2 separate regions of the Homo sapiens genome follow, and region 2 is linked to region 1. Evidence: fine-mapped expression QTL. Tissue or cell type: visceral fat. Region 1 holds a variant in brackets; the other region holds the start of a gene. All regions are shown on one strand. Distances are between the middles of the regions.

What was found. PIP is the estimated chance that this variant, and not a neighbour inherited with it, causes the effect.
Region 2: PPP3R1 starts here. The variant in region 1 is fine-mapped to the expression of PPP3R1 in visceral fat (GTEx, PIP 0.97).

The regions. Positions count from the first base shown.
Region 1 is chr2:68,059,523-68,067,611 of GRCh38, reverse strand. It overlaps C1D (C1D nuclear receptor corepressor), which reads left to right and starts at 4,608. Exons shown (of 5, transcript NM_173177.3): 1 at 4,608-4,654. RefSeq lists enhancers at 4,257-4,757, 4,510-4,919, 3,841-5,040. The variant G/A (reference allele first, on the strand shown) is at 3,477.
Region 2 is chr2:68,249,253-68,257,361 of GRCh38, reverse strand. PPP3R1 (protein phosphatase 3 regulatory subunit B, alpha) reads left to right here and starts at 4,830. Exons shown (of 6, transcript NM_000945.4): 1 at 4,830-5,237. The coding sequence starts at 5,235. PPP3R1-AS1 (PPP3R1 and CNRIP1 antisense RNA 1) reads right to left here and starts at 5,759. Exons shown (of 2, transcript XR_001739527.2): 1 at 5,628-5,759. RefSeq lists an enhancer at 3,711-4,380 and silencers at 4,471-4,910, 5,171-5,220, 5,401-5,510.

The DNA.
Region 1 (8,089 bases):
TATATGATGGATTACATTTACTGATTTGTGTATGTTGAACCATCCTTGCATCCCAGGGATGAAGCCAGCTTGATCCTGGTGGATAAGCTTTTTGATGTGCTGCTGGATCTGGTTTGCCAGTATTTTATTGAGGATTTTTGCATCAATGTTCATCAGGGATATTGGTCTAAAATTCTCTTTTTTTGTTGTGTCTCTGCCAGGCTTTGGTATCAGGATGATGCTGGCCTCATAAAATGAATTAAGGAGGATTCCCTCTTTTTCTATTGATGGGAATACTTTCAGAAGGAATGGTACCAGCTCCTCTTTGTACCTCTGGTAGAATTCGGCTGTGAATCCGTCTGGTCCTGGACTTTTTTTGGTTGGCTATTAATTATTGCCTCAGTTTCAGAAACTGTTATTGGTCTATTCAGGGATTCAACTTCTTCCTGGTTTAGTCTTGGGAGGGTGTATGTGTCGAGGAATTTATCCATTTCTTCTAGATTTTCTAGTTTATTTGTGTAGAGGTGTTTATAGTATTCTCTGATGGTAGTTTGTATTTCTGTGGGATCGGTGGTGATATCCCCTTTATCATTTTTTACTGTGTCTATTTGATTATTCTCTCTTCTTTATTAGTCTTGCTAGTGGCCTATCAATTTGGTTGATCTTTTCAAAAACCAGCTCCTGGATTCATTGATTTTTTGAAGGGCTTTTTGTTTCTCTATCTCCTTCAGTTCTGCTCTGATCTTAGTTATTTCTTGCCTTCTGCTAGCTTTTGAATGTGTTTGCTCTTGCTTCTCTAGTTCTTTTAATTGTGATGTTAGGGTGTCAATTTTAGATCTTTCCTGCTTTCTCTTGTGGGCATTTAGTGCTATAAATTTCCCTCTACACACTGCTTTAAATGTGTCCCAGAGATTCTGGTATGTTGTGTCTTTGTTCTCATTGGTTTCAAACAACATCTTTATTTCTGCCTTCATTTTGTTATGTACCCAGTAGTCATTCAGGAGCAGGTTGTTCTGTTTCCATGTAGTTAAGCGGTTTTGAGTGAGTCTCTTAATCCTGAGTTCTAGTTTGATTGCACTGTGGCCTGAGAGACAGTTTGTTATAATTTCTGTTCTTTTACATTTGCTGAGGAGTACTTTACTTCTAAATATGTGGTCAATTTTGGAATAAGTGTGATGTGGTGCTGAGAAGAATGTATATTCTGTTAATTTGGGGTGGAGATTTCTGTAGATGTCTACTAGGTCTGCTTGGTGCAGAGCTGAGTTCAATTCCTGGATATCCTTGTTAACTTTCTGTCTCGTTGATCTGTCTAATATTGACAGTGGGGTGTTAAAGTCTCCCATTATTATTGTGTGGGAGTCTAAGTCTCTTTATAGGTCTCTAAGGGCTTGCTTTATGAATCTGGGTGCTCCTGTATTGGGTGCATGTATAGGTAGTATAGTTAGCTCTTCCTATTGAATTGATCCATTTACCATTATGTAATGGCCTTCTTTGTCTCTTTTGATCTTTGTTGGTTTAAAGTCTGGTTTATCAGAGATTAGGATTGCAACTCCTGCTTTTTTTTGTTTTCCATTTGCTTGGTAGATCGTCCTCCAGCCCTTTATTTTAGCCTATGTGTGTCTCTGAATGTGAGTTGGGTCTCCTGAATACAGCACACTGATGGGTCTTGACTCTTTATCCAATCTGCCAGTCTATGTCTTTTAATTGGAGCATTTAGCCCATTTACATTTCAGGTTAATATTGTTATGTGTGAATTTGATCCTGTCATTATGATGTTAGCTGGTTATTTCGCTCATTAGTTGATGCAGTTTCTTCCTAGCATTGATGGCCTTTACAATTGGCATGTTTTTGCAGTGGCTGGTACCAGTTGTTCCTTTCCATCTTTAGTGCTTCCTTCAGGAGTTCTTGTAAGGCAGGCCTGGTGGTGACAAAATCTCTCAGTATATTTGTCTGTAAAGGATTTTATTTCTCCTTCACTTATGAAGCTTAGTTTGGCTGGATATGATATTCTGGGTTGAAAATTCTTTTCTTTAAGAATGTTGAATATTGGCCCCCACTCTCTTCTGGCTTGTAGAGTTTCTGCCGAGAGATCAGCTGTTACTATGATGGGCTTCCCTTTGTGGGTAACCTGACCTTTCTGGCTGCCCTTAACATTTTTTCCTTCATTTCAACTTTGGTGAATCTGACAATTATGTGTCTTGGAGTTGCTCTTCTCGACGAGTATCTTTGTGGTGTTCTCTGTATTTCCTGAATTTGCATGTTGGCCAGCTTCACTAGGTTGGGGAAGTTCTCCTGGATGATATCCTGAAGAGTGTTTTCCAACTTGGTTCCATTCTCCCAGTCACTTTCAGGTACACAATTCAGATGCAGATTTGGTCTTTTCACAAAGTCTCATATTTCTTGGAGGCTTTGTTCATTTCTTTTTACTCTTTTTTCTCTAAACTTCTCTTCTTGCTTCATTTCATTCATTTGATCTTCAATCACTGATACTCTTTCTTCCACTTGATCAAATCGGCTACTGAAGCTTGTGCATGCGTCACGTTCTTCTCGTGCCACGATTTTCAGTTCCATCAGTCATTTAAGGACTTCTCTACACTGTTTATTCTAGTTAGCCATTCGTCTAATCTTTTTTCAAGGTTTTTAGCTTCTTTGCAATGGGTTCAAACATCCTCCTTTAGCTCGGAGAAGTTTGTTATTACCAGTCGTCTGAAGCTTTCTTCTCTCAATTTGTCAAAGTCATTCTCTGTCCAGGTTTGTTCCATTGCTGGTGAGGAGCTGCATTCCTTTGGAGGAGAAGAGGCGCTCTGATTTTTAGAATTTTCGGCTTTTCTGCTCTGATTTATCCCCATCTTTGTGGTTTTATCTACCTTTGGTCTTTGATGATGGTGACGTACAGATGGGTTTTTGGTGTGGATGTCTTTTCTTTTTGTTAGTTTTCCTTCTAACAGTCAGGACCCTCAGCTGCAGGTCTGTTGGAGTTTGCTGAAGGTCCACTCTAGACCCTGTTTGCCTGGGTGTCACCATCGGAGGCTGCAGAACAGCAAATATTGCAGAATGGCAAATATTGCTGCCTGATCCTTCCTCTGGAAGCTTCATCTCAGAGGGGCACCCAGCTGTATGAGGTGTCAGTTGGCCCCTGCTGGGAGGTGTCTCCCAGTTAGGCTACTCGGGGGTCAGGGACCCACTTGAGGAGACAGTCTGTCCGTTCTCAGATCTCAAACTCCGTGCTGGGAGAAGCACTACTCTCTTCAAAGCTGTCAGACGGACATTTAAGTCTGCAGAACTTTCTGCTGCCTTTTGTTCAGCTATGCCTTGCCCCCAGAGGTGGGGTCTACAGAGGCAGGCAGGCCTCCTTGAGCTGCGATGGGCTCCACCCAGTTCAAGCTTCCTGGCCACTTTGTTTATCTACTTAAGCCTCAGCAATGGCAGACGCCCCTCCCCCAGCCTCGCTGCTGCCTTGCAGTTTGATCTCAGACTGCTGTGGTAGCAGTGAGCCA[G/A]GCTCCGTGGGCGTGGGACCCTCTGAGCCAGTCACGGGATATAATCTTCTGGTGTGCCGTTTGCTAAGACCGTTGGAAAAGCACAGTATTAGGATGGGAGTGTCCCAATTTTCCAGGTACCGTCTATCATGGCTTCCCTTTGCTAAGAAAGGGAATTCCCTGATCCCTTGTGCTTCCCGGGTGAGGTCATGCCTCGCCCTGCTCTGTGGGCTGCACCCAGTGTCTGAGAAGCCCCAGTGAGATGAACCCGGTACCTCAGTTGGAAATGCAGAAATCACCCATCTTCTGCGTTGCTCATGCTGGGAGCTGTAGACTGGAGCTGTTCCTATTCGGCCACTTTGGAACCTCCCCCAAAACTTTAAATATTACATACATGGTGCTTGTTCAAAATGCTTTTACATGCATTTAATATACGGACAACTGTTTCATGCATAACTTTTTATCAAATTACAGCCGTGGAATGACAAGTTACAAATGTTAAGACAATGCTCAATCGCTTATACTACACTTTCAATGAACAGTATGTACAGTTTCTGTTAATGCCTTTATTTTCTATTATGTTTGTTCTGATTGCATACATTGAAATGCAATTTTACATTTATTTGAAACTAATAAAAAATTTGGGCTTGTATTTTGCACATATTTTCCCCATTTTTCTACTAATTCATTTTTACTGTATTTTATAGAAGTACCTTTTACTGACAGATTGGAAAAATAAAGAACCCATTCTTCCCCACGGATAATCTAATAAAGAACCTGTTCTTCCCCACGGATAATCTGGGAAGCTGCTCTAAGAGGCTCATCTAGAGGCAGACAATAAAAGGGTAGAAAGAATGAGGGCCCTGAAAAAAGCTTCTGGGAAAGTAAAAACCCGAACAAAGTTTCGATAACTAAGATTTTTTTCCTGGTTAAATACACTCAACCTGTATTTGGGGTGAGTGTTAGCCGGGTACAAAGGTAGACAAAAGTTCCGAGTGCCGCCGCAATCGTCTCCCACAACATGGGTCTGAGCTACTCAAAATGAGATTTGCCTTTGGAGAAGAGTTAAGGAGCAGGGGGCGTGGCGAGCAGCGTGAGATCATCGGGAAGCGCCGCTCGTGGCGGGGGCAGAGCCGGCGCGTCATTGTCGTCATCGTTGCCCGACCGCTTTCCGGGAGACTGGAGTCGAAGGCCGTGAGGTATTTTTCTAAGGTGTAGTTTCAGTTTTTCTCCTGCTCCTGTTTAACTCCGCTTTTCCTCTCCTGGGATTCCCCTGTCATCCTCTGGGCAGACTGAGAAAATCGGAGTTTGGCTGCGTAGCCTTCCAGGAATGCAGTCTCTCACAGCTCTTCGTTGGGGCAGCATTGTTGGCAGGTCCCCCACTTCCGCTTGTTTTGGGGCTGCTTGCAGGCTTTGGCTTACCCCGGCCCCTCATTTCTCTCTTTTGCTCCGGTCTCTCTCTTTTTCTTCGTTTGTTAACCACCCCCTTCTCAAATCTTGGAAGACGAAGAAATTAAAAACAAAAATCAAAAAACATTGAAGTCTTCACAATTTTCAGCTGTTTTCAATCTTGCTTAGGGAGAGAGGCTAAAGTGGAACGTCTAGGGGAGTAACTTTACTGTGTTAGCTCCGTTTATCATTCACATTCACAGACTGCCTGCTGCTGCAGTATTAGCTCATCTGAGATAGTGGGCTAATTTCGACCTTTAGCTGAAATCTGTAGTGGGTAATCCAAGAGAGCAGTTTTTCTTGATGACCCGGATAAGTTCAGTGTAACTCAAACTTGTTTCAAAATAGCTTTAATGTCCTCAATGTTTGCTGACTACAGTTCAGTTTTGGCTTGATAAAGATGTATTTGTCGCAATGAGATGTTTGCTATCCACTTATTAACCTATTAGGACTGTCTGATGGTGGACTGAACCAAGACTTAACCGTGATTTTTTAAAAAATTAAATTTAAAAATTTTGTGGGTACATAGGTGTATATATTTATGGGGTACACGAGATGTTTTGATACAGGCATGCAATATGTAAGAATCACATGGAAAATGGGGTATCCATCCCTTCAGGCACTTATCCTTTGTGTTACAAACAATCCAGTTATACTTTTAGTTATTTAACTCTGTATTTTTGATTCAAAAACAACAGATTAGCCCTATTGAAGTACAGAGAAATGTTTGTGTTTGGTGGAAATGATAGAACTCATTGTTTTGTTGAAAGATAGTGACAAGTGTGAATAACGGTTTTTCAAAATAAAATTCTCAGTCAAAAGATACTACAGCTGCCTTCAGTTAGCTGTGTTGTATGTATCACAGTTCAAAAGTAATGTAATTTTTTTCTTAACTGCTTTTACCTTTTCAAATGGCTCTTCATATGTATTATCTCAGCTACTGTTTCCAAAGTTGACCCTTCAAGCATGGCTCTAAATAGTTCACATTGGATTAGAGTATTTGGTAATTTTCACTTTTAGTAAAATACTATCTAATGTATTGAGTGCTAACTGAGCCAGGCCCCGTTCTAATGGCTTTTATCTAGTTTATTTAATCTGTGCAACAACACTATATACTCTTATTTCAGAAATAAGATAATTGTAATAATCAACTTCCATATGTTTTGGAAGGTAATTTTGCTGCTTGATTGCTGTAATTTTGGAAATGCTTTGAATTAAACTTTGAATAGAAGTGAATTTAATTTAATGTAATTGTTCATCTCAATCTTGAGCAATATCCTCGTAATTTATATACTCTCCTATTAGACTTTGGGATAAATTTATTTTTAGATGTTAATATATTTTTTAGAAAAGGAAGAAGTCTATATTTACTCAGGAATTGTACTGTGGGACTGAAGGAGAGTTACAGACAACACTAACATGGAGTCACTGTTTGCCCAAGACAGCAATATTTATTGAGAACTTGTGTGTACATTTCATTGTTATTTTCTCCTAAGATAATGCAGTGCGAAAAAGTCATTACAGTAATTCATTACAGTAATAGAATTCTGGTGCAACAACAGCAAATGGCTCTCAAATTCCAAAAAACAATCATGTTGGATTTGTTCTTTGGCTTAGTTCATAACTGTGTATAATTATTTGGTGTAGAGATGGGAAGAGCCCTGGAATGTACATTATCGTATGTTTGTTTGGATCCATGTGGTGACTTTCTAGTATCTGTAAGCTCAAACTGTAATCTGATATTAAGAGTTTCCAAAATTACGTCTTAGGTTACTTTGATTGGTTTTAGTTAGTAAACAAATAGTTGCTAACTAACTAATACATGACAAGACATTATGTTAGTGATGTGGAGTTCAAAATGTGCCTCGACATGAATCTTCCCTTGAGCAATAGCCCAGTGAGTAAATAACCAATGGAAAGGTAGGAGGAGAGGAGTGACATGATCTGACTTAGGTTTGTTTTATTTTATTTTATTTTACTTTATTGTCTTTTGTTTTCTTTTGTTTCCTTTCCTGCCCTGCTCTGCCCTTGCCCGCCCTGCCCCACCCCATCTCGCCCCTCTTTTCTTTTGGAGTCTCACTCTGTTGCTCAGGCTGGAGTGCAGTGGCACAATCTCGGCTCACTGCAACCTCCGCCTCCTGGGTTCCAACGATTCTCCTGCCTCAGCCTCCGGAGTAGCTGGGATTACAGGCACCCGTCGCCATGCCCAGCTAATTTTTTGTGTTTTTAGTAGAGTTAGGGTTTCACCATGTTGGCCAGGCTGGTCTCGAACCCCTGACCTCAGGTGATCCGCCTGTCTCAGCCTTCTAAAGTGCTGGGATTACAGGCGTCAGTCACTGCGCCCAGCCTGACTCACGTTTTAATAGAATCTTCTCTGGCTGCTGTGTTTAAGAATAGTTTGCTGTGGGGTGGGGTAGGTGAAAACCAGGAGACTAATCACGGAGGTGTTGTAGTTCAGATGAGATGATAACATCTTAACTGGCTGGAAAGAAGTGAAGGTGGAGAAGCAGTTTAATTTTAGATGTATTTTCTAGGAAAAGCAAACAGAATTGCTTACAGATTGAAAGTGAATTGTAAGAATAAGGTTATTGTCAAAGTTTGGGGCTTGAGCAACTAGAAGAAGGGAATTGCCATTAACTGAGAAGTAGAAAACTGTGGGAGGGGCAGGTTTGTGGGAAGATTCGGAGTTCAGTTAAGGACATGATAAGTTTTTGATGTCTGTTAGTCATCTAAGTGGAGATGTTGAGTAGGCAGTTGAATATGTTCATTCTGGACTTCAGAGTGGTCATTGCTGGAAACAGACGTTTGGGAATTGTCAGTGAACAGATGGTATTTAAAGTTGTGAGACCGGAGACAGTCGTTAAAGGAGTAAATGTAGACAGAAAAGAGAAGGGGCACAAGGCCTGAGTCCTTAGGCATTTTAACAAGTTGGGAAAATGAGGAATAACCACCAAATGAGACAGACTGAGCAGCCAGTGAGGGACAAGGACAATTTTGAGTCTGGTGTTGTAGAATTTACAGTAGAGTAGTATGTTCAGTTTTGTCAGGTGCAGCTGATGGATCAGGTGAAATGAAGATTGACACCTTTGGATTTATCAAGAACTTAAGGAGTGTTATTGATAGATATGTGATAATGTTAAGTCAAGCAGATAGTTGCACACCAGTGTGATAACTGTATTACAGTT
Region 2 (8,109 bases), 190 kb before region 1:
TAGTAAAATGGAAATACTATCAAAGTCCAAATAACCAGGCTTTTTCTTGGTATTCACTTTTATGTGCAAAAGACCAAATAAATGAGACAGACTTTTAATTCAGATAAACAATGTCATGACATAATCTAGGACACCTCAATGGACACCTCCATCTGTCTTGGTCCTCTCTGACCACACTGCTGGACCCCCCAGCCACTAGATGATGTTGATCAACCTTTGATCTTGAACTCCTCCCTTTCAGCTTCCAGGGTATCCTTACTGGGTCTTCTGCCCTTCTGGTTTGCTCATCATCTTTCCTATCACTTCTTTTTCCTTCTGCCACTCAAACGTAGATGCTCCCTTTAGTTCTGCCTTGCCCCAGGTCTTTACTGTTTAAACTCTCTGATCTCTGTCCTCTCTTTCTTGATTTCAAGTCATTTTTATGTAGATAATCACCCAACTGTAATGTACTCATACATGAAAAAATAATTAGCATAGAAAAAGAATAAAGCTCATTATGTAAAGAGCGTTAACAAACTGTTTAAAAACACTGTGGGCTTTTCTTCTAACACACAAAATTAGTGTGAATGCAAGAGGTTTAGGAATAAATCTTATGAAGTCTTTTTCTTTCCTTTTCTTTTTGTTCCAGTGCATAGTATGGAAACAACTTATGTAACTAATTTATCATATAATTTTTTTATTAGGAAACTCCTAATTTAAAAACTGTCCTAATTTGTATTTCATCTAAAAAGTAAGTGATAGAAGGCTTAATTTTGAACAAATTCAATATTCTTAATTCTCTTGTGGGAACTGGAAAAGTTATACAAAGTCCATAATTTTAAAAGTAATTATATGTACAATTAAAGAAAAAAACCCATCTAGTACTTGGAATACATTTTTTCCCAAATGCATTAATTCAAAAAGATACATATATTTAAGAGTATTATTTTCTACTATTGAACTTTTAGTAGCAAATACACAGAATTTCAGCTACATTGTAATTTAAGTAGGCTTTTTGCAGGAAGGCCATTGTTTATAGAACTCTTTGTGAAATGGTTTCTATGGAGAAATGAGTTTCCAAGATGGAATTTAGATCCTTGGCAAAAACCTCTGCTGCTTAGCAGGAAGGGAATGACCCACTTCTCTTGGCATCTCAGGTGCCTGGGAGCCCTTTCTCAACCACACCCTGGAGTAGGGGGCTAGCTTGCATCCCTGCGTTCTCCTCATTACAAAAAAGAATTCTGAGAAGGAAGGTGATCTATTCCCTATGCAACCTCAGTGTCCACTGAGAAGGGAATCTTGTGGTATGGAACTATGTGGCAAAAAGGTACAAAGTATTCTTACACCTGGAATTCTTAACCTGGGGCATGCATTTTATCTAAGAGGAGAGGCTGAAGTTTCCTCCAACTTTCCATTCTAAAAAGGAACAGACATTGCTTTCAAGTGGTTTTAACTGACTTTCATTTTTGATTGGCATTTTCTTCCTATGTACAAGAAGAGTAGAAAAATCAAACATAGTTTCTAGTTGATGTTAGTAAATATAATCATTACTAAAAGTGGCCATTTGGGGAGTAATACTGTAAATACCTTAAACAACTACAGAAATGGTAATTTGTTTCTCCTGAAACCCTTAAATATTATATATAAAGTAATGGCAGTGATCAGTCCTTTAAGAGTAAGGCAACTTTCTGGATGTCACTGTTATCTTAAAGGTCTACGGAGGAAATAATATCTTGTGACATTTCTAACTTCCTAATGGTAATTGTGGAGACACAGAAGTCTGAGGCTGCCTATGGTCAAACATGACTGTAAACATTACCCACTTTTTTTTTTTTTTTTTGAGACAGAGTCTTGCTCTGCTGCCCAGGCTGGAGTGCAATAGTGGTTCGATCTTGGCTCACTGCAACCTCCATCCCCCAGGTTCAAGCAATTCTCCTGCCTCAGCCTCCCAAGTAGCTGGGATTACAGCTACGTACTAAAACACCCAGCTAATTTTTGTATTTTTCGTAAAGACAGGGTCTCACCAGTTTGGCCAGGCTGATCTTGAACTCCTGACCTCAGGTGATCCACTCACCTTGGCCTCCCAAAGTGCTGGGATTACAGGCGTGAGCCACTTTGCCCGGTCTACTCTCTCTTTCTTAAAACCTTCTTTTCCTTTAATTTTCTACCTAGCAGCTTTATTATCATTTCTGGGTCTTTTCCTTCTCCTATCACTAATTAAATAAGGAAAAATTTGAAGATTTCATTTTAATCCTTTTTAAAATTGATTCCCATATCTCTATTCCTTTCTAACCTGCACTTTCAGCTTCTATTTGGGTGCTTCCACTGGGATAGCTCATCAGCAACTAAAACTTTGCATCTTTAAATCTAAACTCATCTCTTCTCACTCAATAGCCAAACTTTGGACCTCTCCATTTCTCTTAATGTTAACACTATTTCCTGTCATCAAAACGAAAACTGGTCACCTTTTATTTCTCCCTCTCTGTTCCACACATCCACTATGTTGCATAGTCAGTCCATTTTTGCTTCATGTTGTTCATACTCGCCTTTCCTTTCCTCTGCCATTGGTATCCCTTATCACCTCATGCCTACCTGTTACTAATTCTTGTAACTGGCATCCCTGTCTTAAGTGTTTCTCCCTTCAATTTATCTGACATAATTCTTTCTGATAATCATCTAAGAGCTTGTTAAATTTTCTAGGAAAAATAAGCCACAAAGATATGTCCATTACCTCTTCATTTATCTAGTTATTTAAAAACATGTATGCCTTTAGCAGGGCTATTTGGTACATACATTTTTAAAAACACATATGCTTCTGCAGGACTGTTTGGTACCTGTTCCCACTCACACTAAGCTTTACATCAAAATTTAATGGAAAGAGACAAAAAGGAGAATGACTACTTACCATACTTTTCCCCTCAGCCTTTTGATGAAAAACCTATTAAAGGTGCATTTTGGATTTACTTATCTTACTGAATTCAGACTAGTATAAATTGCCTCCAACACAACAAAATTATGGGTTATTTTAAATCCACTGTATTCCAAATAGCTCGAATTCCTTCTTAGTGCATACCCCTTAGTTAAAATAATTTGATTTTCACTGAAAATGTCCAAGGGACACAAACAAATGCAGTTAGCATGATTACCTCTGGTAAGTGGAGAGAGGAAGAATTTTGCATACAGTACTTTTTCTTAAAAAGCACGTCTTTTTATGATAAAAAACTAATTTTAAATAGTATACCTAGAAAACGTTACACATATACCCTAGGGACTTTTTCTTGTTCTGTAATATGTTAGTATCAAATAGCAACATATTTAAATCAAGAAACTTGTGGAAGAAAGTGTCCCTTCTTGGCCTTTCCTTGATACATTCACTGTGTGACACAGCTTGTTATGTCTAAGTTCTTTTCCTTATTCATCCTGACACAGAAGCAAAGTAGCTCCTGAAGGGGGAAGGGGAGGGATGGAGGGGCGGGGAGGGGGGGATTGACAGAGAGAGAAAGACAGAGAGAAAGAGAGACAGGAACCATTTAGTCCTAGGGCAAATCGCTGAGCGTTTATTAGAAAAAAATGCATGCTCATCATATGGAAAAATAATTAGCACATAAAAAGAATAAAGTTCTCATGTAAGGATCATTAAGACTTTTTTAAAAAAAAACAACACAATGGCTTTTTATAAAATGACTCAAAGGCTTTATCAATAAGGAGTTTCCGATCACTCAGAAAACATCCTCTCTCTCTCTCTCACACACACACACACACACACACACACTCTCAAACACACACGAGTGCGGGCGATTATCAAGGCTTGTAAAGGAATAACTGGTTAAAATAGTTGCAAAATGTTTTCTTCGTTATCCTCATCACACCTCTCCTGACAGCTTTATTTCTTCTCTCGAACATAAATTTCCTCCTTATGCTTTTCTGGATGTAATTTCCTATTGTAATCTGAATTTTCTGGGAAGATAATTGCCACAGGAGTGGATATAGCTCTACTAAAAGGATAAGCGGGCAATCTACATTCGAGTTTTTTTCTTTTTTTAAACAAAAACTGATGGACTCCGCCAAAGGGGAGTCTGGACGGTTTATGGGAATGCAGAGCTGGGTGGAAAGTCTTTCTGCGAGTGGGAAGTATCCCTTCTCCTCGTTTGCCCAGGTTCTCCCCACGCCTCGGGCTGCGGCCAGCTTTGGCTCGCTTCTCTGTCTTTGCAACCTGGTTCCTGACTCTGCCAATTCATATTACAGATGGGCCTGCGGGTGCTGCACCGGGGTGACAGCAGTCCTGATGGGCCGTGCAATTCTGTAGTGGATCCAAGTCGGTACACGGATGCACAGATACCTTTGACTGCCTCTCGCAGGACTTGGATTTTTCCTGTTTTTTGGTGCGGCATCCGGGTGGTTCTGACACCCTAAGACTGCTCCTCTGCTCCTCCTCTCCCGCAAGGCTTCCACTCCAGGGCCCCTGTCCCCCTTTCGCTAGCACTCGCGCACCCCTCGCGCTTCCTCCCGCCGGGGAACCCTCGCATTTCCTCCTTCCCCTCCCAGCCTTGCCTTCTTCCCCGCCCGCCTCCAGCCACATGACCGGAAGGGCTCCGCCACGCGACGTCACCGACGTCCGCGCCCCCGCCCCTGGCCTCCCCCCACCCTGCACGCAAGGGGCGGCCGGCTGAGGGGCGAACGTGGTCCGCGCGCTCAGCGTTCCCCAACCAGAGCTCGCCAGAGCGCCGCGGCACTCGCCGCCCAGCGGGGCGCGCAGGTTCCCGGATGTGCGGCGCTCGCGGAAGCCCCGCCCCCGCCCCGCGCGCTGCAGCACTCCGCTTTCCCCTCCCTCTCCGCCCTCCCCTTTTTTCGTGCCTTGAGGTTGCGGGTCAGCGCGAGCCGCTGCAGTGAGTCCGTCACGGCTCCGGCGCGAGCGCGAGGCTGCAGCCCCCGAGTTTCCCGGCCGTCTTCGCCCCCTCTCCCCCTCCTTTCTTCTTCTCTGCCTCTCCTGCCTCTCGCCGCTGCTCCTCCCGCGCTCTCCGGCTCTGAATCTCGACCTTAATTTATTTCCCCCTACCCTGCCCGCTCCCTCGCGTGCCCAATCGCCCGGCCGGCGCGGGCCCCGCGGCGCCGCCTCCCCTCCCCCACGCGCGCCCCCTCCCCGCCGGCGACCCGAGGGCCGCAGCTGGGCCGCCGCCGCCGTTTCCTGCGAGCCAGCCTGAGCGCAACACTTCTCCGAGCCAGCGAGCCAGCGAGCCGCCGACCCGCCGAGCAAAATGGTGAGACCTTGGCTTCCTCGATGCACCATCCCTCCCCCTACTGCCGCCGTCCGGGTCGGGTGCGGGGGCGAGCCCCGACGCCCCCGGTCGGCTGTCCCCCGTGGAAAATTCCAGAGACCCGGGCCCGGCGGGTCCCGCGGCGGTTGCGGGCGAGCCGGAGAGGGCGGCGGGGCGGCTGCTGACAGGACGGCGGCGGGGCCCCCGCGCCCGCCCCCGGCCTCTGCGGGGCGCCCCTCTGCTGCTCGGCCGCCGCCCCGCCGTCGCCCCACCCCCGCGCCGCCGGTCCCGCCCGGCATCGACCCCCGCGGGCACCGCTGACCATCAGCCCGGCGCACTCTCCTTCTCGCGACCCTCCTCCACGTGGAGCACCCCCCTCCCCTCCACACTCACTCTGTTTTTCGAGTTCGAGGGTATTCTGAAATCCTTTGGAAATAACAATATGTGGCAAATGGCACTTTACATAAGACCCACTTACTCTCCAGAGCTGCTGCTGCTTCCACTCACTGCCTGTTTCCCAGCAGTGAGTCTTGGCAGGGAACCCTGCCACTCACTTCCCCTCTCCTGCGAGCGTCGGTTTAGCTGCGGTGCGCAGCCCTGCGGGGTTTCCGTTCGCTGCTGCTTTGCTCGCTGCCCTGGCGAACCGGAAAGATCCAAGGTGTTTGTTCACGAAAACATACGCGAACTTGGTTTGGGAGAAATGGGGGCGCTTAATTTTTCATGCTTCCGTTACTACCAAGGGTTTTTTCATTTTCTTTGGTACCTTCTTGTGTCTCTCTCTTGGAGTGGTTGTTTTTGAATCATGGCGATTTTAATTTGTCTTTCCTTACCCTCACATTAATCCCTAGGTAGAATTCGCTGCTGTAGTGTTTCAGACCGACGCTAGGGGTGTGTCTCCCGCCTCTGTCGCTGCAGCCAAGAAATCAACGACGCCCTTTTAGCCTGTTACCTTACCGGTTCTCTCGCTCGGGGAAGCCCTAGTCGTTAGTTTCCTCTTTGTAATCAAGAGTTGTATACACAGTAGAGAAAGTTCAGAGTGCTATTCCGCGTATATCAGATACTCCATCATGCGATTCAGTTATTAGGCTTTCTCTAAAAGTCTTTGAACAGTTGTCAGAAGACTTAAACTGGTTGACGGTGGGTAATTTCTCGCATCTTTTCCACTGTATGGTATCCCACCCTGTATGTAGAATTTAAGTGCTTCAGTGTACGTGGTGGATTACTGAAGGGAGGAATGCTGTTGCTTACAACTTAAAATCGATTTGGTGAAATCGATTTTAAGGGAAGAACGTGAAATTAGAATATTCAGGTAAGTCAGCTTTTATTTAAAATATAGGGCAAATGAGTAAGTGCTTACTGGTGCACTTAAAACCCAGATTAAGAGCAGACTTAAATGATTGCCGATTTTGATGTGTAGAGAAAGTTTTTCCTTGCCAACTTGCGAGGCAGCTCAGAGAGGCAACTTTGGCACCTGAAAGTCACAAAACAATTTAGGAAGATCATAGCCATTCATCATATAATCTTTTTGTTGGCATAGTCTTTTGAAGTGAAGAATTGCATTTCAGTGCTTTAATAGAATTTCCTTATGCACATGCTTTACTTGAAGGTCAGGATCTTGAAGATCTTTGTTCATTGCAGGGAATGTTTTTACTTAGCTTTATAAACAGCACATTTGAGGAACAATGATCTAGCCTTTTGTTGTTTATATATTATACAGCGAAGTGGTATGGTTTCCAAATAGTAACTCTCTTGCGGTGCACCCCGTCCTCTGTTTTTTGAACAACAGACTGAAACTGGGAAGTTCTCTTTTAGCTCTTCAATTTCTTATTTTCCTGTTAACTCTGTTTTCTTGTCTTTTAAAATATTTTACGGTGTATCAGACGATGTTGTTTCCTGCCAGGTCATTATGTTCCTTTTCTTCCCAGCTCCCTTTTCAGTATTTATTTCCTAATTCAACTGTTGGGTTTTTTTTTTTCCTCTTTCATCCTCCCAATACCATTTCAGGACCTACATAATGTTGGCAGTGGCTTTCCAACTTTAGGGTTATTTTGGTCTGCTGAATACAGTACTGGTTTGAAAGTATCAAGACCATACCCATAACTCAACTTTGCCATATGGGATGTCGATTAACCCAAATAAATCAGGCTTTGGAGTGATCTGGTTAATTTTTCTGGTTAATTGAACATACAATTCTGAAAACTTTCACACCCTTTGGAAAATCTCTCTTAGAACTCTTATTATTTACATTCTGTCAACAGCATTTACAGTATGAAATATCACTAGTTAATTCAAGTATGGAAAGTAAAAAGGCTTATAAGATTTAAATGTACTCTCAAGGATCTTTTCTGACAGGTATTAATTTTAGTTGGTGCCTTAAACGTAGTTTATTTTTTTTTTTCCTGAAAGTTAAAGTCTTTCCCTCCCTTCACCCTTATTTGAGTTTTAAATTGTTAAGCGTCCAGGGAGAATGAAGGTTATATGTTAAAAAAAAAAATCTTGTAAATAGTGAGCTCCTAGGAATTTCCCCTGAACGAGGTGTTTTATATATGTTTTTGTTGAAATAGATAATACGGATTTTGTTCTGGATACTTAAATGAACATAATATAAAGGTAATTGTTTTACGTTTTGTTTCTTAAGGGAACTTTAAATTTTATAAAGGCCTTTTCATGTCTTTGTGCTTTTAAACTTTTAAATTTTTTTTTATCTCCATGATCTGCATCTAGAACTTAAAACAAATTTATTGCCGTCTATAACTGTATGTAGAGTTTTACACAACATATTCTAGTTCAGATTCTGTGGCAAAGGCCACTTTTTAGAAAAAAAAAAACCTGTCTTATGACCAGCGGAATTAAAATTCACATCTGTCCTGAGAAA